7 linked regions of the Homo sapiens genome follow. The protein of the gene in region 4 purifies or fractionates together with the protein of the main gene of each other region. This does not show direct contact. Each region holds a gene or a part of one and is shown on either strand. Other genes may lie near its edges.

Evidence for each region.
Region 1: the proteins of ALDH3A2 (region 4) and CAND2 purify together in Homo sapiens (affinity purification with mass spectrometry; 3 studies listed by BioGRID and IntAct, with this or other methods). This does not show direct contact.
Region 2: the proteins of ALDH3A2 (region 4) and PPP4R3B purify together in Homo sapiens (affinity purification with mass spectrometry; 3 studies listed by BioGRID and IntAct, with this or other methods). This does not show direct contact.
Region 3: the proteins of ALDH3A2 (region 4) and LTN1 purify together in Homo sapiens (affinity purification with mass spectrometry; 3 studies listed by BioGRID and IntAct, with this or other methods). This does not show direct contact.
Region 5: the proteins of ALDH3A2 (region 4) and TBC1D15 purify together in Homo sapiens (affinity purification with mass spectrometry; 3 studies listed by BioGRID and IntAct, with this or other methods). This does not show direct contact.
Region 6: the proteins of ALDH3A2 (region 4) and VPS8 purify together in Homo sapiens (affinity purification with mass spectrometry; 3 studies listed by BioGRID and IntAct, with this or other methods). This does not show direct contact.
Region 7: the proteins of ALDH3A2 (region 4) and XPO4 purify together in Homo sapiens (affinity purification with mass spectrometry; 3 studies listed by BioGRID and IntAct, with this or other methods). This does not show direct contact.

The regions. Positions count from the first base shown.
Region 1 is NC_000003.12:12,802,778-12,806,778, reverse strand, and holds part of CAND2 (cullin-associated NEDD8-dissociated protein 2), read right to left. Parts: intron 3,292-4,001; coding exon 3,148-3,291; intron 1-3,147.
Region 2 is NC_000002.12:55,607,193-55,611,193, forward strand, and holds part of PPP4R3B (serine/threonine-protein phosphatase 4 regulatory subunit 3B), read right to left. Parts: intron 1-4,001. UniProt on the Homo sapiens protein: Regulatory subunit of serine/threonine-protein phosphatase 4 (PP4). May regulate the activity of PPP4C at centrosomal microtubule organizing centers.
Region 3 is NC_000021.9:28,957,984-28,961,984, forward strand, and holds part of LTN1 (E3 ubiquitin-protein ligase listerin), read right to left. Parts: exon of another isoform or gene 3,095-4,001; intron 2,724-3,094; coding exon 2,534-2,723; intron 1,715-2,533; coding exon 1,475-1,714; intron 557-1,474; coding exon 403-556; intron 1-402.
Region 4 is NC_000017.11:19,658,588-19,662,588, reverse strand, and holds part of ALDH3A2 (aldehyde dehydrogenase family 3 member A2), read right to left. Parts: intron 1,463-4,001; coding exon 1,321-1,462; intron 590-1,320; exon of another isoform or gene 499-589; intron 1-498.
Region 5 is NC_000012.12:71,846,036-71,850,036, forward strand, and holds part of TBC1D15 (TBC1 domain family member 15), read left to right. Parts: intron 1-2,256; exon of another isoform or gene 2,257-4,001. UniProt on the Homo sapiens protein: Acts as a GTPase activating protein for RAB7A. Does not act on RAB4, RAB5 or RAB6.
Region 6 is NC_000003.12:184,815,008-184,819,008, reverse strand, and holds part of VPS8 (vacuolar protein sorting-associated protein 8 homolog), read right to left. Parts: intron 3,226-4,001; exon of another isoform or gene 2,128-3,225; intron 1,888-2,127; exon of another isoform or gene 1,565-1,887; intron 1-1,564. UniProt on the Homo sapiens protein: Plays a role in vesicle-mediated protein trafficking of the endocytic membrane transport pathway.
Region 7 is NC_000013.11:20,899,773-20,904,477, forward strand, and holds the start of XPO4 (exportin-4), read right to left. Parts: upstream 2,975-4,705; 5' UTR 2,967-2,974; coding exon 2,898-2,966; intron 1-2,897. UniProt on the Homo sapiens protein: Mediates the nuclear export of proteins (cargos), such as EIF5A, SMAD3 and isoform M2 of PKM (PKM2). In the nucleus binds cooperatively to its cargo and to the GTPase Ran in its active GTP-bound form.

The sequences.
Region 1 (4,001 bases), on a different chromosome or scaffold from region 4:
GCCTTACCCTACCCTAGATCTACTGAGCCAGGATCTGTAGCGCCACAAGGTCCCCAGGTGATTCCAATGCACAGGAAAGTGTAAAAACAGCGGCACTAGACGCCCTCGTTCTTGGCCTTAGTTGCCATCACCTGGGCCTCTAAAAAATGCCTACCTGGGCACTGCCCTCAGAGAGTCTCAGTTAATTGGTTTCAGATGTGGCCTGGAGGGGGTTGGGGGAGGGCTTTTAAAATTCCCCAGGTGATTCTAACATGCAGTCGAGGCTGACAACCTCTGCCCTACCTGAGTGGTTCTCAGACATTGGTGTGCATCAGAATGCAGATTCCAGGGTGCTATAGTCTCATCCTCTGCCCCAGCTCCCTTCCTGCTCCATCCCCTGAATCTGAATCCCTGGGCAGGGAATACAGGGTTTCAACAAGAGCTTCAGGTGACTGCAATGCACAATGGTTTTCTTTTTTCTTGATTTTTATTGAGATGAGGTCTCGCTCTGTTGCCCAGGCTGGAATACAGTGGCGTGATCATAGCCCACTGCAGCCTCAAACTCCTGGGCTCAAGCGATCCTCCTACACAGATGAGATTACATATTCAAGCCACCATGCTTGGCTAATTTCTTTTTTCAGTGTCTCGCTATGTTGCCCAGGCTGGTCTTGAACTGCTGGCCTCAAGTGATCCTCTTGCCTCAGCCTCCAGAATAGCTAGGACTACAGGCATGTGCACCATGGTTTTCAAACCTTGGTTCTCTCAACTTCCTTCTCCACAGCTCCTCTATCTACGTAATCATGGAGTCCTCCATCCTACCTCCTATAGCACTGGTTCCCACTAGGAGTAATACCACCTTGGCAATTTATGGGGGTCCTTGGTCATCAAAACTATTGAGTTAGTACTTCTGGCCTTTAAGGGGTTGAGAAGCAGGAACGGCAGAAAGACAATAATGTAAAACAAAGCACTGTCCATGCCCCGCAAGAGGTTCTAACATCCCAATGGGCATTTGTATAGGCAAAAGGCCTTTCTATAATTATCTGAGTCTAAAATTTCATTTTATACATAGACACAAAATACTTTTTTACATTGTTTTAATATACCACATTTTAGATTTTCTAAGAATGCAATTTTCAGGTAAATTGAAGGAAAATTCTACTTTGTTTTCTGGGAAACTTTATTGGGAGATGGTCACTCACTTTAGAAAATCCTGGCTGGGTGTGGTGGCTCATGCCTGTAATCCCAGCACTTTGGGAGGCCTAGGCAGGCAGATCACTTGAGGTCAGGAGTTCAAGACCAGCCTGGCCAACATGGTAAAACCCCGACTCTACTAAAAATACAAAAATTAGCCGGGTGTGGTGGTGCATGCCTGTAATGTCAGCTACTGAGGAGGCTGAGACATGGGAATCGCTTGAACCTGGGAGGGGGAGGTCACAGTGAGCTGAGATTGCACCACTGTACTCCAGCCTGAGTGACAAAGTGAGACTCTGTTTCAAAAAAAAAAAAAAGAAGAAAAAAAAAAGAAAATCTTGCCACTAAGAGCAATGGCCTCCAATTCTGAAACCTGAGTCCCCAACACCCCCTGTCTGTATCTGTACTCATGATGAGTTCACGTGTAGATGCAGGCTTCTCGTGACTTCATCACTTCTACCATCACAGTGCCCAAGCACGCATACATGGAAACACACATTACTATAAACTACATTCCTTCTAGTTTGCCTTTATGGTTATGGTTAGGGCATTATGTGTAGAGGTAGGTTTTATAATGTATGAATTTCATTTCCTAATAGGAAACGGTATTACAAACTATTTGTTATAAAAAGGTATTGGTTCTGCTGGTGTGAAACCCATCCTAAGTCTACTCCATGACCAGAAAGACATTCCCAGCTCATAAACTTGTCCATGTCACCTTCCTACATAAAACCCTTTACTGAATTCTCTCTGCTCTTGGGATCACATTGCAAATTCATTAACATGCCCCAGAAGAATGCCTGGACCCAGCTCACAGACAGTGGTTTGAGAGACAGTGCCCAATTCTCTCACCCTGTTGTCCCTTGATCCCTGGCATTCTATTTAAAATTACCCAGGTGATGCTAACCTGCAGTCAAGCTTGACAACCTCTGCCCTACACTAGTGGTTCTCAGGTGTGGGTGTGAGAATGACCCTACCACACAAGCATCCCCACGTGCTCTGCACATACCCTTGTCTTGTCTTTTTCTACTCGAGATAACTGGCCAACGTCTCAGGATCACAGCCTCACAGTGATCTAAGGCTGGGGCTTTTAGGACCTCTCCCAGTCCCATGTGCCCTAAGCCTTTTTTGTTTGTTTGTTTTTGAGATGGAATTTTTGCTCTTGTTGCCCAGGCTGGAGTGCAATGGCGCAATCTTGGCTCACTGCAATCTCTGCCTCCTGGGTTCAAGCGATTCTCCTGCCTCAGCCTCCCAAGTAGCTGTGATTACAGGCACGCACCACCATGCCCGGCAACTTTTTTTTTTTAATTATTATTTAGTAGAGACAGGGTTTCACCATGTTGGTCAGGCTGGTCTCAAACTCCTGACCTCAGGTGATCCACCTGCCTTGGCCTCTCAAAGTGCTGGGATTACAGGCATGAGCCACCGCACCCAGCCTTTAAGCCTTTACCACCTTGATGTGTGTCAGCTTGACCTTCCCAGCATTTACATCTGTCTGAGGGCTTTCTCTGGCTGGAGGTGGCAGGCAGTGGACAACCCTCCATCCTACCCCAGAAGCAGCCCTTAACCAATGACTACCAGGGAGCTGGTGGATTAATACCCCAGCTCCCTTACCCTTTGAGTGGGAAAAGTCCAAGGGACATGTCCTATACTGTGTCCCAGAGGTCCCCATGGGGTTAAGCTCATCAGGCCCACTGTGGTCACTTGCTTCGTACCATACCCTTGATTGGTCCTCTTCCCTTTCCTGCCTCACTTCCCTACTCCTCTACCATGTTTCCTGGGAGCGCCTCCCAAATAAACTTAGATTTGAATCCTTGTCTCAGCATCTTCTGGGAAAACTCAGACTAAGGTACCATTCAACGAGAGCTGCTCAGCAGGTCTCCTCTGCGAGGCTGTACCCCAAAGGGACAGCGGTCCCCAGGATGCTCCCACACAAGGTAGGGCCCCCTCTCCTGCTCCACCGAGGCTGACACTCACCACTTGACAGCCAGGTTCTGCACCTCACCGTTCTTGTCCTCCAGGAGCCGGAGCAGCATCTTCACCACCTTGCGCTCGCTGTCCTCGTCCAGCTGGATGGAGTCCTTCTGCAACTCCGACATCAGGTCGCTGGTGGCCATGAACCTGCACAGGGAGGGTGGAGGAGATTGCTGAGCAGCTCCTGGGCCCTGGTGGATTTGGGCAGTACCTCAGGGTTCCCCTAGAAGTAGACCTTAATACAAAGATTCGAGGTCAAATGCAGTCCTGTGTCACATAATGATGTTTTGGTAAGTGACAGGCAACATATACAATGGTTGTCCCATAAGATTATAATGGAGCTGGCCGGGCGCAATGGCTCACGCCTGTAATCCCAGCACTTTGGGAGGCCGAGGTGGGCAGATCACGAGGTCAGGAGATCAAGACCATCCTGGCTAACATGGTGAAACCCAGTCTCTACTAAACAAAATACAAAAAATTAGCCAGGTGTGGTGGCGGGCGCCTGTAGTCCCAGCTACTTGGGAGGCTGAAGCAGGAGAATGGCGTGAACCCGGGAGGCGGAGCTTGCAGTGAGCCAAGATCATGCCACTGTACTCCAGCCTGGGCGACAGAGAGAGACTCCGTCTCCAAAAAAAAAAAAAAAAAAGATTTTAATGGAGCTGCCCTATACAGGCATGCCATTTTAATCTTTTCTACCTTATTTTTACTGTACCTTTTCTATGTTTAGACACACAAATACCACTCTGTTACAACTGCCTACAGTACTCAATACAGGTTTGTAGCCTAGGAGCAACAGGCCACACCATATAGCCTGGGAGTGTAGTAGGCTCTACCATCTAGGTTGTGTAGGCACACTC
Region 2 (4,001 bases), on a different chromosome or scaffold from region 4:
AAGAAGTGTGAGGATTTCTCCCCACCAATAATCAATCAGTTCCATATTAGACACCAGGTGGGTGTTCTCCAATTCACCTTCGACACTGTTTACCCGGAGACACTGTCAGATACCACAGTTGAGGGCTCAGCCCTACAAGACTGCCCCCTACTTCTAATGCCAATTGCAAGCCTGCGTTGTTTTACCTGTTTCCAACCAAACGGCTATAAATCAGGCTTCCCATGACTCCCTCCTTGGATTTGATTAATTTGCTAAAGTAGCTCACAAAATGCAGGGAAACAGTTATATCTACCAGTTTATTATAATATAAAGGATATTTTAAAGGATACAAATGAAGAGAGGTACAGAGCAAGGTATGGGGTAAGAGGCTCAAAGGTTGCATTACCTCCCTGGGCACATCATCCTCCAGGAACTTCCACTTAGTTATCTGGGAGCTCTCCAAACCCAGTCCTAATGGGCTTTTATGGAGGCTTCATTAAACAGGTATAATTAAGTAAATCACTGGCGACTGGTGATTAATAAACCCTCAGCCCCTCTCCCCTTCTGGAGGATGGCGGATGGGGTTCAAAGCCGCAATCTTCTAACCATGCCTTGGTCCTTCTGGTGACTAGATCTATAGATAGTACTATCTACAGTCAGGTCAATGGATATTACTAACAGAATGAAATCCAAAACCCTTTATCCAGCCATCCAATGCCTTTTCCATTTTGGCTACAATCAATGTTTGGTCCAGGTAAACATTGAAAGAGAAGGTCCAGGTAAACAACGAAATCTGAATTAAGGTAACTGAGCACCTTTTCATCATCACTTTCTTTTGCTCTTCTTTTTTTTGATACAGAGTCTCACTCTGTTGCCCAGGTTGGAATGCAGTGGTGCAATCTTGGCTCACTGCAACCTCCACCTCTGGGTTCAAGTGATTCTCCTGCCTCAGCCTCCTGAGTAGCTGGGATTACAGGCGTGTGCCACCACACCGGATTAATTTTTGTATTTTTAGTAGAGACAGGGTTTCACCATGTTGGCCAGGCTGGTCTTGAACCCCCGACCTCAGGTGATCTGCCAGCCTTGGGCTCCCAAAGTGCTGGGATTACAGGTGGGAGCCACTGCACCCAGCCCCTCATTCTTAACTTTAAATTCTTTTCTCTGATCTTGTCAAAATACCAGAAACTAAATGGGGTTTATATTTAGAGTTCTTTTCCAATGCTGAGGACTGACCCTGGGAAACAGTCAACGGTTACTGATCTTTCTTCTTCCTGATTACCAATAACTGATCCATCACATGCCCTGTCAATTCTACCTTCAATAAAGATCACAAAATCCATCCATCTCTGTCCATCTCTATCACCTCAATCCAATCCAACATTATCTTTTGCTTGGACTATGCAGCAATCTCCCAATGAGTTTCCCACTTATTGCTTCTCTTCAATTCCACAGATTGATACTATTAAGTATTTTGGATCATGTCATCACTTTGCATAAACTCTTCAAAAGCTTACTTTAAAAATCCCAACTTGGCTGGATATGGAGGCTCATGCCTGTAATCCCAGCACTTTTGGAGCCCAAAGAGGGAGAATTGTTAAGCGCAGGAGTTTGAAACCAGCCTGGGCATCATAGTGAGACCTCATCTCTACTAAACATTAAAAAAATTAGCCAGGTATGGTGGTATGCGCCTGCAGTCCCAGCTACTCAGAAGGCTGAGGTGGGAGGATCGCACCTAGGAGGTCAAGGCTGCGTGAGACTTAATCATGCCACCGTGCTTTTGGCTGGGAGACAGTCTCATCTCAAAACCACCGCCCTGCCTCCAAAAAAATTCCAAACGAAAAGATAGTGACCAGCCAGAAGCAGCACTCGATGAGGTATTTCTGGATGAATGAATATATGTGGTCAGATCAACAAGACTCAGTCTTGAGCTCTGTTCTTTTCTCAATTTATAGCTATTACCTCAAAGGAGGTTACCTTGTAGCTAAAAATTCATAATTCATCTGATTTTTTTTTTTAAAAGGCTGGAGTGCAGTTGGCTATTCACAGGTGTGATCATCACGAACTATAGCCTCAAACTCCTGGTCTCAAGTGATCCTCCTGCCTCAGCCCCGAAAAGCTGGGACTACTACTGGCATGCTAGGCCTTTTATGATTCTTAAATTAGAATCTCCTGCCGGAAAGTCTCACCCTATCTCTATTCCCAGATGTTCATTTTAAGACCTTTTCATGGGCTGGGTGTGACGACTCATGTCTGTATTCCCAGCACTTTGGAAGGCCAAGATAGGTGGGCTGCTTGAGCTCAGGAGTTCAAGACCAGCCTGAGCAACATGGCATAATCCCATATCTACAAAAAATTAGCCAGGCATGGTGTGCACACCTACAGTCCCAGCTACTCAGGAGGCTGAGGTGGGAGCCTGAGCGCAGGAAGTTAAAGCTGCAGTAAGCCATGATCACGCCACTGCACTCCAGCCTCGGCAACAAAGCAAGACTGTGTCTCAAAAAAAAAAAAAACAAAAAAAACAAAAAAACTCTTTCCATTTATTTTACTGTATGTAACTTCAAAGCCCGGATGGAAAAGAAAAAAAAAGCAAAGCACAAAACAGTATACAGTATGCTACCAGTTATACCAATAAAAGGGAAAAAATACATACAATTGTATGCATATTTGCTTACATATGCATACCTCCAGCAAGATATATAAGAAACTGGTGATGTCAGTGGCCTCTAGCAAGGGAAACTGTACGGACAGAATCTGGCGTGGGAAAGAGACTTCAATAAATACCTTTTGAATTTTTAACTGGGCTAATATATTACACACTAAAAAAAATTTTTTTTAATAAGCCTCAAACCAAAAGATTAATGTAAACCTGCTTAACTTCCCACTTTCTGGAAAGAACCATCACCTTCCTGGCCAGACTCAAAAACACTATCAGTGACCTTTGATTCCTTCTCTTTAATATTTAATCATTTACTAAATTTTCCAGCACTTTCTGGAAAATATACTGGAGCTCTGTTCCTTCAAGTCCATTTACCGTGGTGGAATAGACTTTCATTTTTTGTATCTGAATTATTGCAAAAGGTCTTGCTACTCAAAGATCTTCTGCTCCACCCTATCCCTCCTCCCCAATTTATTATTCATGACATTGCCACACTCATTTCTTTAAACACAGTATCACTTTAGGCCCCTACTCAAGAACCTGTAATGTCCCCTTCTGAACCTGTGTATTATCATATTTGGGATTGGTGGTAGGAGGGGGAGAAACCACTGCTACAAATAGGCTTAATACCTTTTGTAGCAAGTGTATTTCCTTTCCTATCACAGTTCCTTCCACTACCACCACCAAGAATGAAGTTTTTCTTAATGATTCCAGCTTATATTAACCTCTTCCTTAATTTTCTACTGCTCTAAGTCTGTGGAAAATGCAAGTTTACTTTTTATATTTTGTGTTGGCACATACCTGCTGTATAATCTCAGTCAAGAATCTTACCCTTTCTGTACCTTTGTTGCCTCATGTGTGAAATGCTTTCACGGGCTTTCAGTGAAGACTGTGGTAAAACACTGTTATAAGCTATCTTATTATCATTCTTTATCTGTTTCATCTGTTACATCCTGCCTCCAAATAAAACTGCAATGAGGATTTTCTTAAACCCAATTAACACACAATTGTGTTAAATAGGTACACATTCTTATGACTCTGGTTTTTTTTTTTTTTTTGAGAGAGTCTTCCTCTATCGCCCAGGCTGGAGTGCGGTAGCACAGTAACAGCTCACTGAAGCACTGACCTCCTGGGCTCAAGCAATTCTCCCACCTCAGATTCCCAAGCAGCTGGGACTACAGGTGTGTGTCACCATGCCCAGCTAATTTATATTTTTTGCAGTGAGAGTCTCAGTATGTTGCCCAGGCTGGTCTTGAACTCCTGGACTAAAGTGATCCTCCTGCCTCAGCCTCCCAAAGTGTTGAGATTACAAGTGTGAGCCACTGTGCCTAGTATGACTCTTGTTTTTTATTAAGATATGTTGCCC
Region 3 (4,001 bases), on a different chromosome or scaffold from region 4:
CACCATCACTTTACTGTCTATAAGTTATGAGTCCAGCAGGTATGTTATAGCAAATTATCCTTCAATTAACTGGCAGTTTAAATGGATGGTCATTGAAACAAAATGGTTTTGGAAAAATTCGTTTGGGTCTTTTCATAAGAGTCCTGTAGATTTGTTACCTAACAAGTCACTTTTCATTTCTCTTTTTTTTAAGAGATGGCATCTCACTATGTTGCTCAGGCTGGTCTCAAACTCCTGGAGGTCTCAACTGATCCTCCCACCTCAGCCTACTGAGTAGCTGGGATTATAGGGACGAGCCCTACAAGTCATTTTTCATAGGCACTCACACTGATCATGGAATCTAATTTAAGGACACTGTTCAAGTATAAAAGAGACACTGAAACCAAGCTCAAAAAAGGTTACCTGTTGATATCCAAAGATGAAGCCTGAACTTGGTTCTTCAGCCACAGAGCAGACAAATGTAGGAAGGTACTCTCTTTATATGAACTGTCAGTTTGATGAACCAATAAATTTACACCAGAGAGCCAAGTATTTTTCAGTTTACAGATAAGAAAATCTAAAATCAAGATGTCAACAGGAATTTGTAATCTCACTGAATTAACTCTCATCAGCACAAAATGTTTGAAACAACTCTACAGATCTGAGATTTTTTTAAATACCATTTAAAAAAGAAAAATTTTAAATTGCCATTCAAAATTCAATTGCCAAACAAAGCAACTGTGTCATAAACATGCAATCATACAAGCTAGCACGTATCATATAAATGTAAAATGGTAAGATTTTTAAAGTTACATTTTTTATGCTTGAACTTATTTACAAGAGTTGTCCTTTTGGAGACATTTTTAAAAAAATTATTACACCATTTCCAAATACAGAAGTTAGTATTTAAGAAAGGGTTGGTAGCCAATGATGGGCAGAAAAAAAAGAGAGAGAGAAAGAGGAAGGAAGAAGGAAAGAAAAAAAGAAAGGAAAGAATGAAGGGTGGGAGGAGGAGAGCTCTCTATAGATAGTATTTTTTTATGTTCCTTTCACAAATAAGTCTGAATTAGCATATAAGGCAAGAATATAGTCCTTAAAAAGATAATTTCAATTCTATTTTGATATACACCAAAGATTGAATGTTTTTACTATAATAAAGGGATATTATTATCCCCCTTTTACAAATGAGGAAACTAAGACATCAAGAAATTAAGGAACATGCCAGAACTACTGAATGGACTAAGATTCCACCTAATCAATTATGGCTCATTCCAAATTTCTTTGAATATCAAGTGAGATCTTTAGAAATAACATCTACGTACATCTTTAACTTGCTTTCTAGAGCTGAAAGTGTTTAAGACTGTAGCCCTTTACTCAAAATGCTTTAAACTTTCAAACACATTATAATTCAATTAATAAAGCCTGGGCACTTACACTCACTATGAAGGTCAGAGCCGGAGATTCCCAACAAAACATTTGAGCAGTAGGCTATTACCTGGCAAATGTGTTTTTTCTTTGCTCTGAGCACATAACTGAAAGAGAGTTAATAATAAATCTTCAGATGATGGCATTAGCAAGCATCCTTTCGCTGAGCTGAAATAGTTATAGGCCACATCACAGATAAAAGACACTGATGAGTCACTGCTTTCAGCTTCTGATAATTTCTTTGTTTTGAATAAAGTTTCATGAAGTCTAACAATGATTCTTTCAACATATACGTCTCCAATCAAGTAATCTGGAGAAAAAAAGGTTCAAACAGACAAAAAATAAAAATATTAACGTGTATTTTTAAATATCTTACTTTGGATTAATAATTCTATGGGTCTTTCCTGGATTTTAAAATGTATTAGACAAAATTTTATCAACAAATCAACACATTCTCTCACACATAAAGGCCCTCAAGTAAAAAAGGCAGTTTTAAATTAAGTAGAAAACAGAAATGGTCTACAGTTAGGGTGAGCAAGTTTGTACACTGAAAACCCTTTAAGTCATGAGTCAACTTTATGAGCTAAAAAAAAAAAACCCTTTAGGATATAGAACTAAAAATATTAAATATCTTCTAAGTCATGGTATGAAGATTAATAAACAATTAGGGTGCTTACAATATTACGATATGTAAATGAGCTGGGCGCAGCGGCTCACGCCTGTAATCCCAGCACTTTGGGAGGCTGAGGCAGACAGATCACCTGAGGTGAGGAGTTCGAGACCAGCCTGGCCAACACAGCGAAACCCCGTCTCTACTAAAAATATAAAATTTAGCCAGGCATGGTGGCATGCACCTGTAGTCCCAACTACTTGGGAAGCTGAGGCACAAGAATCACTTGAACTCAGATGTTGTAAGCCAAGATCACACCACTGCACTCCAGCCTAGACGACAGAGGGAGACTCAGTCTCAAAAAAAAAAAGAAAAAAGAAAAGAAAAGAAAAAAAAAAATTTGAATGAGTAAGTCCTGTTATTTTTAACCAATAACACATAAGCTGAGCCCCATGCAATCCCCCACAAAGGAGAAATGGACTATTCCCCATTAGAAAACAAAAGCCATATTTGTCCTACCATTTTTAACATGTTGGGATAATACCAAGCTTAGAAGAGTCCATCTTTCTGAGAAGTGAGATTCTGAAGATACCCTGGATTCCAAGTCCTCATTACAAAGACAATCTGCCAAGTTGACCAATTTCTCACCAAGGATATCGCCTTTGAGCCAAGGAGTTACTAAAGCATGTTTATCTGAACTAGGACATGCCTAAAACCATAAAATTAAAGCAAAGATTAACAGCAAGATCAAATACTCTCTCTGTCCAAAATATTACTTGTACCATATTACTATCCCTTCGTTATCATGGCTCCAATTCTATCCCCCCTCCTCCTCCTCCTGAAGTTCTAGGAAGACTGGTATCCTCCCTGTTCCCCATTAAGCCTGTATGATGTTCACTTCCACGCTTTGCTGTTACCTTCCCAGCCATAAATATTCCCCCACCCCCCCCTTTTTTTTTTAACTTAAAATCCCATCCATTCTTTGAAAATCAGTACAAATCCCACCTACTTTATGGAGTCTCCCCATCCACTCCAGCCCACAATGATCACTGCTTTTCTCTGAATTTCTAAAGCACTTACTGGATTGTATAATTATTTAAATGTTTCATCTGTGTATATCTTGTCTTTCCAATGAGATTGTAAGTTCCTTGAGAGTAGAGACTGTCTTAAACTTCTTTGATACCTGCTATCAACACTGTAGATATGTTCAATGAATAATGAATAAACTTTGAAGATAGATTTATAAATGCTCTATAAATTTTTGTTCATTAATTTTGCTAAAATTAAAGAACAATTAGTGTATAATAATGGTAAATTACTTCAATATGAACAATGGGATTTATTTCCCCAAATTCTCTGATATAGAGTTACTAGGGCCAGATATCTGACAGCAACTTATTTTCATGAGGTGGGGAAGCAAGAAAAAAAAAAGCTGTAAATCCACCCCTAAAGCATGCTGATCCATGTTCCCAGAGCTTCTTTTGCTTTAAGGGCTGAGAAGTAAGGAATTTGCAACTTGGTTCATTTCAAAGCAATCTGGAAGAAAAAAAAAAATCCAAGTGCAGATTGGGTAGTGCTTGGAAAACTTTATCCTTTTATTTAAAAATTGTAGGTAACCAGAGCTTATATTTTAGTCCAAGCTTTATCACTAACTAGCCTATGACCTTGGACAAATCTTTTAATCAGCGTGGGCCTATCTCCTAATTTGAAAGTTGGAAAGATTAACTTAGAAAATCTCTAAGGTCCTTTTCTGGTTCCAAAACTCAAATCTGTTTTTTAATTGATGGTTTTTTTAAAAGATGACTTTAAGACCAGCCTGACCAACCAACACGGTGAAACCTTGTCTCTACTAAAAATTCAAATATTAGCTGGGCATAGTGGCAGGTGCCTATAATCCCAGCTACTCGGGAGGCTGAGGCAGGAGAATCACTTGAACCCGGGAGGCAGAAGTTGCAGTGAGACGAGATGTTGCAACTGCACTCCAGCC
Region 4 (4,001 bases):
TGAAACAGATGCTGGGGAGGCTAGACAAAGTGTCCCAGCATCTGCTGCCAATGTAAGTCACCAACTAGCAGTACTCCAAAAGATGCTGTAAGTAAGAAACTGGCTCGTCAACCAAAAGAGAAGTCATCTGACAATAACAAGTTGGCACTTTTCCTTTACCCCCAGTTTCTAATAGGTTATCTTGGCAATGTGGCTGGGGACAGCTTCTTGCAGCACCACTTCCAGGGGGTATATAAACTGCCACTCCAAATCCATTGCCCACATCTTCCTCAGGTCAGAGAAACAATTTGGGCTGAGTGTCTACTTCCTCTGCATAGCCATGCTCAGGTAAGATGATCCCAGCTCGAAGTCAGGGGAAAGTCCTAATTAGTCTATAAGCTAATCAGGATAGCCCCTTCCTCTTACCATTCATTAGCCTAGAAATAGGCAATGTGGACATGCTGAGGATGGGAGAACAGAGAGGTGAAACAAGTAGAGTCTGTTTTCTCTTTTTTCTACAGATGTATTCCCCAATTCAATCTGGGCTGCCACCAAGAGAGATAGAAGGCACAAGGATTGTTTTCTTTTGCATCCTAGTACAAAGAATCAGGGTTTTTTGATGGTACCACGGGGCCACTGAATTATCTAGCTCAGGAGAACCTCGGGACTGCTAATTATAAGAGAATCAATTCTGCTTATTATTTCATTTTTAAGTTTTTTTTTTTAAAGTTGATTTTTTTTTTTTTGGTGACTTATAGCATCTTATCTGATAAAGGGGATAAGTAAAGCTAGGTGGTGCAGCTTCTTTGCCAGCAAAATGTGTCTAATTTTTCTGTCACCTTATATGTTACTGTAGAAAAATGTGCTTAACATTCAAAGTAATACATATTCAAGGCAAAGAAGAAAAAGCACAAAGAAGGTACACAAATAATAAGGTCAAGCATGATGGACCAAAACATTATTTCTGGAATGGTACCGTCACTGGTTAATTGTGGAATAGTGGCCAAGCTATTTCCTTCTTTGTGCTGTTTTCCCATCCACAAACTACAGATAATTACATCAAGTTCTATTCTGCTTCTCAGGATTGTTAGGAGGAAAAAAGGAGTTATGTGTAAATATGAACAACTGGAGCAACGCTGGTGGCATCATTCAATACACAGAAACACAGACATTTTAAATAGTTTATAACAAAAGCTACAGGTACAGTATACCAGAAAGCAGGATTTAGTACTTTAACAATTAAATGCTATATATTTAATAGTTTATCTAGTGTTAATAAGTAGTGTCAGCAAAAACTGCCAAATTGCCATCTTCCCATAGGAAAAGGAGAATTTCCATTACCTATGTAGCGTGTGGCCTCATCAGTCTCCCCACCAAAAGCTATCTTTTGTCCTTCAAGCAAACTTAGTATCCTCTTAAAATGACGAAGATTGATGATCCTTTCATAATCAGGAGACTCTTTTATATTTTCTCCATAAAATTCCTATTTAAAACAACAGGAGTATATAAATGTCACAAAGACCCACAATTCAATTTCAGTAAGTACAAAATCCAGCCATGCCCCAAAATCAATCTGGTTTTATATCCTCACAGAATCTAACACCCCACCCCTCAAGTAATTTAACAGTAGTATGATAGTAGCAAGTTTCAGCTTTTTGGCAGGTCGAGGACCAGAAAATAAAGCATGCACACACACAGAGATCTGTCATTGTCCATAGTTCCAAAGGTTCTTATGGATCTCTTAGAGTCCACCCACAGGCCTTCACCTCCTGGGGCTGACAGTGGGAGCAGGCTGGGGAAAGAAGTCTTGCTCTGCATCAGAGTTGCCTATTTGTTAGCACATTGGCTGTGCCTGCTTTCCCCCTACAGTAAGTTCGGTAGTTACAGCAGAGACCCTAACATCTGCAAAGCCTGAAATATTTACCATCTAGCCCTTTACAGAAACCATTTGCCAATCTTTGCTCCACTTTGTTGTTTTGGTCTTCTTTGAACTGGTATTTCCACCACTTACACATGATGGTGAAACCACCCGAAGGATCAAAATACAGCTTTGGTAAATTACCAAGGTAAAAGAACGTCAATAATCATACAATCAATATTTACTTAGTAAAACAAACAAAATTACTGAATTGCTGCATCACTTCAAAGCCTTGTGAGAGTTCCCAATTTCATCCCAAATCAAAATGAACATTGTTCATCCAACCTCTACCAAGAGCAATTCTCAAGTCTGGGTGGTCGGAATCACTGGTGCAGCTTGCTAAAATGCATGTGCCTGGGCTCTGACTCGAGAGTCACCAACAGTAGTTTTCAATGCTGAATGCATCATAGAATCACCTGGAGGCCTCAGACGAGCTGAATCTTTGGAGGGTAAGGCTTGCAAACTTGTTTTTAAATGGCTCACTAGGGTAACATGTAGCTTGAGAACCACTGTGTTAAGAGTATAAATGCCTCAAAGGGAGGCAGAGGCCCTTATTCCTTTGAAATTGAATTCATCACCACACTCAACTAAGCATTCTCCAATTCCCAAATATTTTCAATCTCACAAGTATCTTTAACCACTCTCTCTTCCCACATACCCTGAATCTGGGCAACTCTCCCTTCATGTGCTCATCTGGATCCATTTTTAGTCCTATGACTAAAAATGATAGTCCAATTTCCATGTCAAGACCCTAGCACCTCATCCCCCAAGTTACTCTGCCTGGAACACATAGTGAACTATTGTCCTGAACTTCCTGGTACATAATTTTCTCTTTTTTTTTTTTTTTTGAGACAGGGTCTCACTCTGTCACCCAGGCTGGAGTCCAGTGGCACATTCTTGGCTCACTGCAGCCTCCGCCTCCCAGGAGGATCAAGCGATCCTCCTACCTCAGCCTGCCAAGTAGCTGGGACCACACGTACACGCCGGTACACCTGAATTTTTGTATTTCTTGTAGCGACAAGATTTTGCTACGTTGCCCAGCTGGTCTTGAATTCCTGGCCTCAAGTGATCTGTCTGCCTTGGCCTTCCAAAGTGCTGGGATTACAGGAGTGAGCCACTGTGCCCAGCCAATTTTCTCTTTTTTTGTTTTTTTGAGACAGAGTCTTATGCTGTCACTCAGGCTGGAGCACAGTGATGCAATAATGGCTCATTGCAGCCTTGAACTCCTGGGCTCAAGTGATCCTTCTGGCTTCAGCCTCCTGAGTAGCTGGGACTACAGGCATGTGCCACCATACCCAGCTAACCTTTTTTTCTTTTGTAGACACAGGGTCTCATTATGTTGACCAGGCTGGTTTTGAACTCCTGGGCTCAAGCGATCTTCCCACCTTAGCCTCCCAAAGTGCTCGGATTACAGGAGTGAACCACCACAACGGCGACAATTTTCATATCTTTTTTTCTTTTGAGATAAAATCTCATTCCGTTACCCAGGCTGGAGTGCAGTAGCATGATCTTGGCTCACTGCAAGCTCCACCTCCCGGGTTCAAGCAATTCTTGTGCCTCAGCCTCCCAAGTAGCTAGAATTATAGGTGCGTGCCACCATGCCCGGCTAATTTTTGTAATTTTAGTAGAGATGGGTTTTGCCATGTTGGCCAAACTGGTCTCTAACTCCTCACCTCAAGTGATCAACCTGTCTTGGCCTCCCAAAGTGCTGGGATTACAGGCGTGAGCCACCATGTCTGGCCAACAATTTTCATTTTCAGATCACATGCATTACTCTTTGGTGTTTTTGATCCTTCCTTTTAGTGCTCAATTAACATCTGTCGAGTAAACAGTGACTGCTCCAATAATTTCTTTCATCTGAGGGGTTAATGATCCTCACCCACTGCTGAACTCAGTCACACTGGTCATTTGGTCATCCCATTCTTCTTTTTTTTTTTTTTTTTAAAGACAGAGTCTTGCTCTGTCGCCCAGGCTGGAGTGCAGTGGCGTGATCTTGGCTCACTGCAACCTTTGCCTCCCGGGTTCAAGCGATTCTTGCCAGGGTTCAAGCAAATCTCGTGCCTTAGCCTCCTGAGTAGCTGGAATTACAGACATGCACCACCAT
Region 5 (4,001 bases), on a different chromosome or scaffold from region 4:
GTTCATTCTGTCTAAAAGTTGAATTTATCTGTTTTTCTGCCTCATTTTTGCTTTTTAATTAAAACTTTTGCTAAATTAGAGGTGAGAAAATTTATTCTAAAATGTTTGCTGTGGTCACCAGAACTCTTTTAATAAGGTATATCTGACATAGCTCCTTTGCTAGAGGAGAAAAACAAAATACAGTTTCTGTTGCTTTCAGCAGGCCATCATTGGAAGTTTTATAAATGTACTTATCTGCTTGGGCATCTTAGCAAATATTTAAGAATAAATAAGAGCCTGGAGGGCATGAGACATTTTTATCCCAAAAGGAAAACTTTCCTCCTTTTTTTTGTAGTATTTTTACACTTAGAATATTCCTTCTTTACCTTTTCAATAATTTTGCCAGGTACAGACAAGCAAGGAACTCTAATACCTTTTAATTTCTCTGTTCTTTATGATGTCTGGCACATAATTGCTTCATAAAAGTTTGTTGAATTGAATTTTATACAGTCAGTTTAGCACCACCAAGTGGCAAGTCTTTGAATGCTCTTGATATATTTTGCTTCCTATGAACACCTGATTCCCAGCTAAGTGAGGGTATGATTGTTAATTTTTTTTTGAGGCAGGACTAATTTCTTTCTTTTTAGTGAGAATGTCCTCATGTATGTATGTATTTATTTTTAATTAGGTTTTTACTGTTTACAACAATGGACTTTCTATGTAAATTATTTTTTATACAGCTTTTTTTTTTTTTTTTTTTGCCCTGAGACATGGCCTTGGTCCGTGGCCCAGGCTAGAGTGTAGTGTGTGATCTCGGCTTACTGCAGCCTCCGCCTCCTGGGCTCTAGTGATCCTCCCACTTCAGCCTCCTGAGTAGCTGGGACTAAAGGCATGCACCATCACACCCAGCTAGTTTTTGTATTTTTTGTAGAGATGGAGTGTTGCCGTGTTGCTCCGTCTGCTTAGAACTCTTGGCCTCAAGTGATCCGCTCACCTTGGCCTCCTAAAGTTCTGGGATTACAGGTGAGGCACTGTACCTGGCCTATACAGCTATTTTTGAGATACAATTGATATGATAGACCACATGTATTTAGAGTATACAACTTTGACATTTGTGTACACCATGAACCCATGAACACAATTAAGATAATGATGTTTTCACCACCTCTGTTAGTTTTCTCGTGACTCACTGTACCATCACTCCATGTGTCCTCAGGCAACCACTGAGCATTTTTTGGTCACTATAAATTAGTTTTAATTTTCTAGAACTTTATATAAATGGAATTATATAGTATATACTCTGTTTTTGTATGGCTTTCTTTATTCAGGATAATTATTTTGAAATTCATGGTGTTGTATGTATCATTAGTTTTTTTTTTATTTCCAAATAATATCCATTGGGCCAGGCACGGTGGCTCACGCCTGTAATCCCAGCACTTTGAGAGGCTGAGGCGGGTGGATCACGAGGTAAGGAGTTCGAGACCAGCCTGACCAACATAGTGAAACCTTGTCTCTACTAAAAATACAAAAATTAGCTGGGTGTGGTGGTATGTGCCTGTAATTCCAGCTACTCGGGAGGCTGAGGCAGGAGAATTGCTTGAACATGGGAGGCAGAGGTTGCAGTGAGCCGAGATTGTGCCACTGCTCTCCAGCCTGGGTGACAGAGCGAGACTGTCTCGAAAAAAAAACCCCACAAATAATATTCATTGTATGGGTATACCACATTTTGTTTATCTAGTCATGTGTTTGATAGACATTTGGGTTATTTCCACTTTGACTGTTACAAATAAAGCTGCTCTTAGGCCAGGTGCCGTGGCTCACACCTGTAATCCCAGCACTTTGGGAGGCCGAGGTGGGTGGATCACCTGAGGCCAGGAGTTCAAGACCAGCCTGACCAACATGGAGAAACCCTGTCTCTACTAAAAATACAAAACTAGCTGGGCATGGTGGTGCATGCCTGTAATCCCAGCTACTCGGGAGGCTGAGACAGGAGAATCGCTTGAATTCAGGAGGCAGAGGTTGCGGTGAGCCAAGATCTTGCCACTGCACGCCAGCCTGGGCAACAAGAGCGAAACTCTGTCTCGAAAAAATAATAAAACAAACAAATAAATAAAATAAATTAAAGCTGCTCTGAGCATTGGTATATGTGTTTTATGAAAATATGCTTTCATTTTTCTTGATTGGATACCTGGGAATGGGGTGGCTGGATCATATATATTAGTTGTGTGTGTAGCATTTTAACACACTGCCAAATTGTTTTCCAAAGTAGGTGTAGTGTTTTATATTTCCACTGGCAGTGTATGAAAGTTCCAGTTGCTTCATATTTTTGCCCATATTTAATGTCAGTCATTTTAATTTTAGCCATTCTAATAGGTGTGTAATAGTGTTTCATTATGGTTTCAGTTTACATTTCTGTAATGACTAATGGTGTTGAGTATTTTTCCATGTGCTTATTTGCTGTCCTTGTATCTTCTTTGATGAAGTGTCTGTTTAAATCTTCTGCTTATTTTTTTTCAAACTGTGTTTTTTTGTCACTGAGTTTTTAGTGTTCTTTTTATGTCCTGGATTTTATATTCTGGATACAAATCCTTTTAATACAAGTTCATTTGGGTCTTTTTAAAAAAATTATTTATTTTTATTCATCTTATATAAAAGGGGGGCCAAATCTAAGAAAATAATGTTATGTCAAAGTTTGTTTTTTAAAGCATAAACTTTCAGAGTTTGTTTTAAGGTTAATACATAGAGTGCTAGCTTTTTAGTCACCTGAGAATCAGGAAATTCACTTGGACGTAATTCCCTGTGGTAACAAAGAACTATGGCTTCCTATGGGTTTGTCAAGCTCCTAGGCTTCATTCAGCCTGAAATTATACTTTTCTTGTTATGTATAAATTAAATAAAATCTATACAACTGTCTGTTCTTCTGTTGCCTCACATCATGTCTATAAAAACAGCATTTAAAGTTTGCAGGAAATAGAATTTTGGCCTGTTACAAAGCAAACACTTTGTTTCTTTAACTCAGAATTCTGGAAATGCAATCAAGTTCTAGTATTGTGACTGCCAAAATATTTTGTCATCAGATATTAATTTTTTTCAAGTGTCTGACTCCATACAAGAAAATAATAAAAGTATCAGAAGTTAACTGTGATTATAAAAAAAAAAAAAAACAAAAAAAAAACAAAAAACTTCAGTGTCCATAGGGTTGTTCCTCATGGTTTGTTAGGATACTCCTGCCTGATCCAAGTGCATCAGGTCTGAGACTGTTCTTTGTTCCACGCTTCTATCTGCCAGAAGAATCTTTTTAGGTAAGGAGGCTATCATAGGAGGCAATGGAGCTTCTAGCTGTTGTCCAAGGAATGAAAGCAGGCGCCTCCAGCTGAGCCACTTCCCATGAACATAATTCCTGTAATCAGTCAAAACACTCCATGGGCCTCTTCAAGGGAAGATTCCAAACTCATTCCAAAAGCAACTTCCATTACTCCAAAGAGCGAAAGAGAGAAGGTTCTTATGGTCAGCTGTAGATTCAACTTCATTATCACGTTACAGTGGCTGTCCAGATTGATGAAAATAATACTTTGTGAATCATCAGTCAGTACCGTAAGCTCCTAAGCTGCATTGGAGACATCGTCAGCTAGTCGGTAGTAGTTTTCCATCAGCAACTCTATCTCCTCTGCATGGTCAGTCCCAGTACTGCTCTTTTCAAAGACTCGGGGGTCACTCCATTTTGATAGAGCTCTTCTAGCAACTCTTTCTCATCCAGGATCTCCAAAATTGACTCTGAAAATTTTAATATCTGTTTCTAACTCTAATAGACTTTTGCCATTCTGTAGTAAAATGTGGAGTTTGCTTCTGTCTATAGAAGAATGTTTGGGGTCCACCAAAGCTTCCAGCGTCTTGAGGATCAGTGGCTGGAAAAGGCTAAGTTTCCCCTGAAGGGTGTTGATCCAGTATTGCAGGAGTGCTTCTATAGCTCTAAACTCAAAAAATTAAAGGGTTTCTAACAAGTTGACCCTCTCCAGACAATT
Region 6 (4,001 bases), on a different chromosome or scaffold from region 4:
TTTTTAAGAGATGGGATCTTGCTATGTCGCCCAGGTTAGCCTTAAACTCCTGGCCTCAAGCGATCCTCCTACTTCACGTCTCCCAAGTAGCTGCAACTACCAGCCTGTGCCACCATGCCTGGCTTTTCACCAGTTTTCACCTTGGGAAACATTTATTCCTAACTGTTCTCAAGCTCCATGATCCTGTTTAATCCTGACATTCTTTTCCTCCTAAAAGTGTCATATGAGATACTTTTTCACATTACAATGAAATAGAATCAAGTTTTTATTTACTATATAATGCTAGAAAACAATCACAAAATCATGATATAGTACAACATTACATGCAAATTTTATTTTTGGCCTTCCCAATCCAAGCATTTCTCTTCATTCCTTTGTTTTGTTTTGTGGTTTGCTTTGTAAAGGGAAAAATAAAATGCAATGGTGGGTTAACTTCTATTAGTTTTCTATTACCTTCTGGCAAATGGACTTTTTTTTTTTTTTTTTTGAGACAGGTTCCCCCTCTGTCACCCAGGCTGGAGTGCAGTGGCATAAGCTCGGCTCATTACAACCTCTGCCTCCCAGGTCAAGCAATCCTCCCACTTCAGCCTCCCAAGTAGCTGGGTCTACAGGCGCACACCACCATGCCCAGCTAATTTTTTGAATTTTTCATAGAGATGATGTTGGCCAGGCTGGTCTCAAACTCCTGGGCTCAAGCCATCTGACCGCCTCAGCCTCCCAAAGTGCTGGGATTACAGGTGTAAGCCACCACGCCCAGCACAAGTGGACTTATTTTTAACAGATTCCCAATGCCTCCAGGATAAAATCCCAAATTCTAAGCCTGTGACTCCAGATATCACACGAGCTGATCCTTCTGCCTCCTTCCCTTACAATTGAATTTATTATTTTTGCACTAAGAGTCCTTCATGAATAGCTTCCACTTTCCCTTCATGTCTGCTCAAGCTGATTCACCTTCCCTTTCCTTTCCTTTTTCTCTACATTTATCTAACTTCCTTTCTTCCTTCTGGGCACCGTTCAAACTGGATCTGCCTATGACCTCTTCCTTCCCTAACCATCCTCTGAATTCAGAAAACATGTCTTCTTTTAAAACAGTGGCTTGGCTCTTTCCTCATGCTGATTCATTAGTTAATTTACCATGTGACTCTTTTCTCCCCAGCTATATAATAAAAATGGGGCCATGCTCCTTTGAATATTCCACATCACTGGGCTTACTGGCTTGCACAGCTAGGTAGACATTCGAAAAATGTTTGATTAACATAGGAACTAAGAGACAGGAATAACATCTGTGTTGCAAATTAAATCTATCAGTGTTATTACTTGTAATTGTTAAGCTCCAGAGGATATTATTTGACTCACAGCATATAGGAATCTATACCATAAGAAGCCAAGTTATAATTGAATACTACTTATATGTAGTCAAGCTTGTCAACCACTGCAGGTCATATTTATCAACTATCGGCTAAAACTTTGCTTCCTTAGGAAGGCCTTTTTTTGCCCTGCTCAACTAGGCTGTTTCCTGTTAGTATGCACCCATAACATCGTTCTCCTCTTTTACTACACTTACCACATTGTAATGATTTCCTCATTGTCTAAACCACCATTCCTTGCCCCCAGTTGGAATGCAGGTTCCATGAGAGAGCAAAGACCAGATCTGCCTTGTTCACCATTCTATTCCCCGTGCCGATATGACACAGCAGCTGATCAACCCACCCATCTACCCATCCACCCATTCCTCCCTCCCTCCCTCCCTCCCTAGGTAAATACCCAAGCAAGACTGCATCACTGGCTTCCAGAATCTCAAATAGCAGTTCTGGTCACGTAATACAAAGTATGGTTAGTTACACTACTCCAAAACGCCTCCATCTGTGCAAGTTCCATTCTTTGCATCTAGGAGAGATATTTTTAAATCACTTAGCTCATTTATAACATGATGCAAATCCCACAATCTCAGATGTTTTATGTTCTTTTACGTTAATTCAGCTTAGAGGCCAAGATGAATACAGTGGAAATGTACCATACTTCCATTCAATTTGCAGGATTTCATCTATTATCTTCAGCAACGGGAAGGAGAGAAAGAAATGATTCATATAGATGATTCTATGAATCATGATTCATGATTCTGCATACCTCCACTCAATAACTTCTTGCTTCACAGTGGGCACAGAATAGGAGATGGTCAGCTGCTGTTCTATGTCTCAGTTCTCACATGCCTCACACCCAAGCAGTTCACGTCACCTGTGCTCAAAATAACAAACGCCATGCAGTTCCAACATGGAAAAACAAGATCTGGCCGTATGGGGCTTCCTGAGAGACCCACCGCTTGTCAGTCTCTGATATGACTCCCTCTTGGGGTACTTTGAGGGTACTCAATTTTCACCTTATTCATTTAGATACAGACCCTATTTAGAGAAACATTACTATATACTGGGATGGGCTGCTTTACTTGACCCTGGAATTTCTTTCCAAGAAGGCACATTTAGGTAATTGTAGCTCACAGTGCCAGAACTGCCACGACGAAAAAGCCCAACCCTCTGTTTCTCTTTCTGTTGTTGGTGAATGTCTAAATGAGGAGAGTGATCATAAGTACATACAGATTAAAAAATGTTAAAAAGAAAAGTAAGGGGAAGGAACAGTGCCTAAGACCTTCCTGTATACAGTGAGTGCTAAGTTACTGCTATGAATTGTCAGACAATCAGCTCCAGCCTAGAAAAGAAAAATCTAATCCCCTATCACAATATACAAAACAATAATATGAACGAAGTCTACAAATATCTAGATAATGTAGAAATTCTAACTTTATTGATCAGTTTTATATCAATATGTGTGTGAGGTAATAAGTGAAATAAATAACAGAGAAAAATGATCACTTCCAGCTTCTATAATACTGTCTCCACTATCATGAGAATGTCTCTTCTCAGACCCACTTCAGCTCCAAAGAACTCCTCCTAAAAAGCACAAGGGCCTTGTGTACGCTGAAATATATTCCCTTTTCTTCTTCACATAACTGACTGATGCAGGTAAATTCTTGTAAGTTAAATGCGCAAAAGACAGGATTCCACTTAGGTAAAGGCTGAGTAGATGATGGCCTTCTTTATTAATTTGCAATTAACTGTCATCTCAATTTCTCTTGGTTAGGTGTCAAGAAGGATATAGAGTCATGAGAGATTTATTCTTTTTTTTTTTTTTTTTTTAAGAGCAGGAAGTAACTGGAAGCGTCTTGCTGAACTGCAACGGAAAAAACAAAGGTTAAAACACCCCAGCACCACTGCCACCTTTCCTGGAGGGCAACTGCTTCTCCTCCATTCCAACCATGTGATTTTGGTGGTGCTGCCAATCAAGTACCCTATCTGCCTAGCTAGCGGAGCAGAAGAGTAGGCACATCACATTCTTGGGTCCTATGTGGCCAATCAAGGTACTTCTGGAATTTCTCTTTATTCTAGGGTGCTTAATCTTGGATGGCATAACACAGGAGTCATCTGCAGTCACATCTTTTATGCATTTATATACAGTCATGTGCCCCAAAAAGACGTTTTGGGTCAACGACAGACCACATATACAACCATGGTCCCCTAACATTACACATAATGGAGCAGAAAAATGCCTGTAGCCCAGTGATGTCACAGCTGTTGTAATGAATGCATTACTCATCTGTCTGTGGTGATGCTGATGTAAACAGACCTACCGCACTGCCAGTAGTATAAAAGCTAAGCACATACAATTATGTGCAGTACATAATACTTGATAATAAACTATGTGCCAGTTTATGTATTTGCTATCCTATACTTTTTATCTTTAGAGTGTACTCATCCACTTATTTAAAAATTTAAAAATTAGCTGTAAAACAGTTTCAGGCAGGTCCTTCAGGAGGTATTCCAGAAGGCACTGTTATCATAAGAGATGACAGTTCCCTATGTGTTACTGCCTCTAAAGACATTCCACCGGGACCTTCCTGACTCTGTGTAGGCCTAGAGTAATGTGTGTGTTTGCGTCTTCGTTTTTAA
Region 7 (4,705 bases), on a different chromosome or scaffold from region 4:
ATTTTGAATCTCAAAGCATATTAACAGTTAAAATACAGCAATTTTCCATAAGATATATTCAGACCCACAGATGGATAAATGCTAAGATCACTCTGTTTAAAATATGTAGCTTAATGCTTAATAATTGACGGAGCATTAACAACCTTAATTAGCCAAAGATGAATTAATTTACCTCCTTTCTGGTCCCAGTATCCTACAGCTTAAGAACCACAGACTGGTAACAGACAAACCAGAGTTTGAGTCTCTACCCCTTGCTATGTAAATTTGTGTAGATTACTTAGCATCTACATGTTGGAGTTTCCTTAGCCTGTAAAATGAAAACGAAAGTAACACGCCAGGTGCAGTGGCTCACGCCTGTAATCCAAGCACTTTGGGAGGCCGAGGCAGGTGGATCACGAGGTCAGGAGTTCGAGACCAGCCTGGCCAACATGGTGAAACCCTGTCTCTATTAAAAATACAAAATTAGCTGGGTGTGGTGGTACATACCTGTAGTCCCAGCTACTCGGGAGGCTGAGGCAGGAGAATCGCTTGAACCCGGGAGGCGGAGGTGGCAGTGAGCCAAGATCGTGCCACTGCACTCCAGCCTGGGCAACAGAGTGAGACTTGGTCAAAAAAAAAAGAAGATGAAAGTAATAATACCTACCTCACAGAGTTACTGGAGATAAAAAGTAATATATGTAAAGGGCTTGGCACAGCGCCTCCAACATAGTATGTACTCAATAAATGGTAGCTATTAATAATTTGGAATATAGCTTTCATATTAAGAAATAATACAATAACTACTCTACACATCTTTGGTACAAATTTCTGAATACTTAAGTGGAAATTTCCAAAAAGTCATTTCCTTTTTTTTTTTTTGAGATGAAGTCTCACTCTGTCGCCCAGACTGGAGTGCAGCAGCACGATCTCGGCTCACTCCAACCTCTGCCTCCTGGTTCAAGCGATTCTCCTGTCTTCGCCTCCAGAGTAGCTGAGATTAAAGGTGCCAGCCATCACGCCCGGCTAATTTTTATATTTTTAGTAGAGATGGGGCTTCACCGTGTTGGCCAGCCTGGTCTTGGGCTCCTAATCTTTAGTGATCCGCCCACCTCGGCCTCCCAAAGTGCTGGGATTACAGGAATGAGCCACCGCACCCGGCTGTAATTTCCTGTTTTTAATAACATGACACTTTTTTCAATACTACTCTCCTCTGAAAAGATAAAAAGCATTTAGACAAATTATTTATACAACATATGACAGATGGGGTAGAGTGGAAAGACACACAGCTTTAGAGCCAGACAGAACTGAGTTCAAGACCTAATTCAGCCATTTAGTAATCGTGTAACCCGGGCCACTTACAGTTTCTCAACCTTGTAAAGCAAAGCTGTTGCAAGAATTAATAAAATATGTAAAGTATGTAAAGCATCAAGCCCAATATCTAGCACTCAATAAACGGTACTTACTACTATTCTTCTCACCTACTCCTTATAGGGGATAAAAGCAGCTTTGCCAGGGAAGAGGGAAGATATTGGAAAACACAAATACTAGTTTATATTAAGCCAGTGACGAAGGACACTGATTTTACCTGATCAGTGTAAGAACTACAGCCGTGTTTTGGGTGGCATACTCCTTCCAGAATCCAATGAAAACGGAGCCCCTAGCTCCTAGGAAAATTTCAGGAATTTTACAAAACGCTCTATGTCAGGGATTTTTAAGAATCTTTTATTAAGGGGAATACTAGCTAGTTACTTCTGCTTAATTTGCAAAAGTGTGAAAACCTTCACTAGTCTGTTTTGTGACAAAACGTACATTAAGTTAATATTCATAATGAAGCAAGTAAATCCTGCTTTTATTAGACTTCTCGATTTCTAAAGAAACAAAAATATCTGGTGTAAAATATTAGAACTACAAACTACGCTAGAATTAGTTCGAATATTCTCAAATGTGATGCTCAAACACCCTAACACCAAACCAAAAGGAAAAAAGTCCAAAAAGGTAACAAAGCTGGCTGTATCCAATTCTTAGAAAGTCTGAATCAATCCAGGTATCAAATGAACCTCTAACTTCCCAAAACATCTACAAACACCGAAGTCATAATTTGCAAAAACAAAGCTGAGCCAGCAAATAGAAACACTGTTTACTAACTGAACGTAGTTTATCCTTACTTCTCCTCCTTGCATGTAATACTTTTATCCTTTGACTCGGCCTTCTCAAATTCCCTTAGTAAACAATCTCATCAAACTGCTTATTGTAGTGTAAGCATGAAGTCAAAGAGTAGCATAGACTCAGTTCTCCAAATCGCGGGAGCTTTAAGGAGCTTAGCACTAGACCAAGTTTTGCCCCAATGACCTTGGTCTCAACGATTCCCCTCCCTCCCTCCAGCCGGCCCGGCCCTTCCACGTGCTGCCGGCTGCAATTACTCCAGAGGTGGCTGCATGTCAGGGAAGCGCTAGAGGATGCGAATGCACAGGAAACAAGGGTTGCTAACAGCACCCAGGCTGTGCCATCCAATCCCTCCCGACACCAACTCCCCAAGAGCGCTCACACAGCCCTACAAATTTCCCCTACCGAAGCCCTGCGGGGATAACCCCAACTCCTTCCCGGCGCCTTGCTCTGCGACCCAGTCTGTGGGGCAGGGTGTAAGGTGAAGAAATTCTCTTTGCTACACCACTATATTCCCACGCCCGACTGGGGTGCTGGGCAGCCAGGGGAAGGGGACAGCTCCTGGAAGGAGGGGACGACGGCAGGAGGAAAGTAGGCTGAAGAATCCTGCGCCACGCCACCGCCACCTCCTCCTCCACTTCCAGGCTCCCTGCAGGCCCTTGCCAGTCGCCAGCCCAGCGAGCAGCAAGGCCTGGAGTGGCAGGGCCGACCGGGGGCCCGCGAATCCCGGGGTCTGAGGGGCGCGGCGTCCTCACCATCAGAACTTTAGCCGCGTTCTCCAGCTGAGCGATCACTTCTGGGGGCCCCAGCGCCGCCGCCATCATGGTCTCTCTTCAATGACGCGCCATGCGCTGCATTCTGGGAGCGGGCGCCGCGGCCGGCCAATCGCCGCCGCGACCCCGGAGCCTCACGCGCTCCCAGGGCCGTCGCAGCCGCTGTCGACACCGGCGTCGCGGCCTCGGCGGGTCTGGCCGGGCTGCCGGGTTCCGGGTGGCTGGGAGGGGACTAGTGTGAGCCCGGCCGCCGCGCTGGGGCGGGGGCGGCCGCAGCCGGCACCGGGCGAGGCCGAGGCGGTCTGCCCAGACTGCTGCAGCCGCGCGCCCCGCTAAGCTCCCAGCCCCGCGCATGCGTGGTGTCCGGCGCCCCGGCCTCGCGGTGCCCCCGGCCCTCTCCCCACTACCCTAGTACAGCCCGCCCGGGGACCCGCAGATCCACGACGCCAGTTCGCTCCCTCCGTTCTCAGCCCTGCACACCGCCTCCCCTGGCTCCTCCTTGCCCTTCCACGCTCCAGCGCCGTGCAGGATTTCCTAAACTTGGAATCGCTCTTCCCGCTTTCCCCTCCTCAGAGCGCACCTCCTTTCAAAGTATCTCTGTCTCCTGCTTCTCTGTTCCTTCTTGCCATGGGAGAACATTCCAGGATAGAACGCTTCGTTTTCTTTCTTTCTTTTTTTTTTTTTTTGGAGACAGGGTCTCACTCTATCGCCCAGGATGGAGTGCAATGGCCCTATTTCGGCTCACTGCAACCTCCGTCTCCCGGGTTCAAGCGATTCCCCTGCCTCAGCCTCCTGAGTATCTGGGATTACAGGCGCCCGCCACCACGCCCGGCTAATTTTTGTACTTTTAGTAGAGACGAAGTTTCACCATGTTGGCCAGGCTGGTCTCGAACTCCTGACCTCAGGTGATCCGCCCGCCTCGGTCTCCCAAAGTTCTGGGATTACAGGCGTGAGCCACCGCCCCCGGCCGAACGCTTCGTTTTCATAATGGAGGGCTTTGGCCTTCTGCAGGACAATCATCCAAATGTATCTGGGCAGCGGGTCGCTAGGAGACCCTAGGAGGAAAACCCGTCTTTGGCTCTTGCCGTTTTCACTCTTTAAGGGCTGGCTCACATAGGAGAGGGAGAAAGCAGGGACAGGAAAGCCTGACCTTGACTACCTGGCTTCTCAAATGCAGTAAGATGAGCTTTGTCGGCCAGGCGCTGTGGCTCATGCCTGTAATCCCAGCACTTTGGGAGGCCAAGGCAGGCCTCATTTTAGCTCAGGAGTTCGAGACCAGCCTGGGCAACATCGTGAGACCCTGTCTCTACCAAAAAAAAAAAAAAAAAAAGCCCGGTGTGGTGTCTTGCGCCTGTGGTCCGAGCTTCTCGGGAGGCTGAAGCGGAAGGATTGCCCAGGAGGTCGAGAGTGCAGTGGGGCGAGATCACACCACGGCACTCCAGCCTGGGTGAGAGGCTGATCCTGTCTCAGGAAAAAAAAAAAAAAGGACAAAAATCAGCATTGTCGTGTTTGTGGAATCCGTGTTGAAAGGCATATTAGAGTATCAAGTAATTAACCTTCCCTCCGGTGCTCCAGTTGCCTCTAGGACATTCCACGCAAGTGGTCCTGACAGCTGTTTCAGTATTCAAACCAGTGCTGTTAGGTTGTTCGGATCAGGGGTTTGTTTCGTTTTGAGCTGACATCTACGGTCTACATTCCTATAACTTCTTTTTGGTGCTTATTCAGCCTTCTGAAACAACACAGACAGTCAAATTCGTTTCAGTATTTTTAAGTTTATTTTTTGTTGAAAT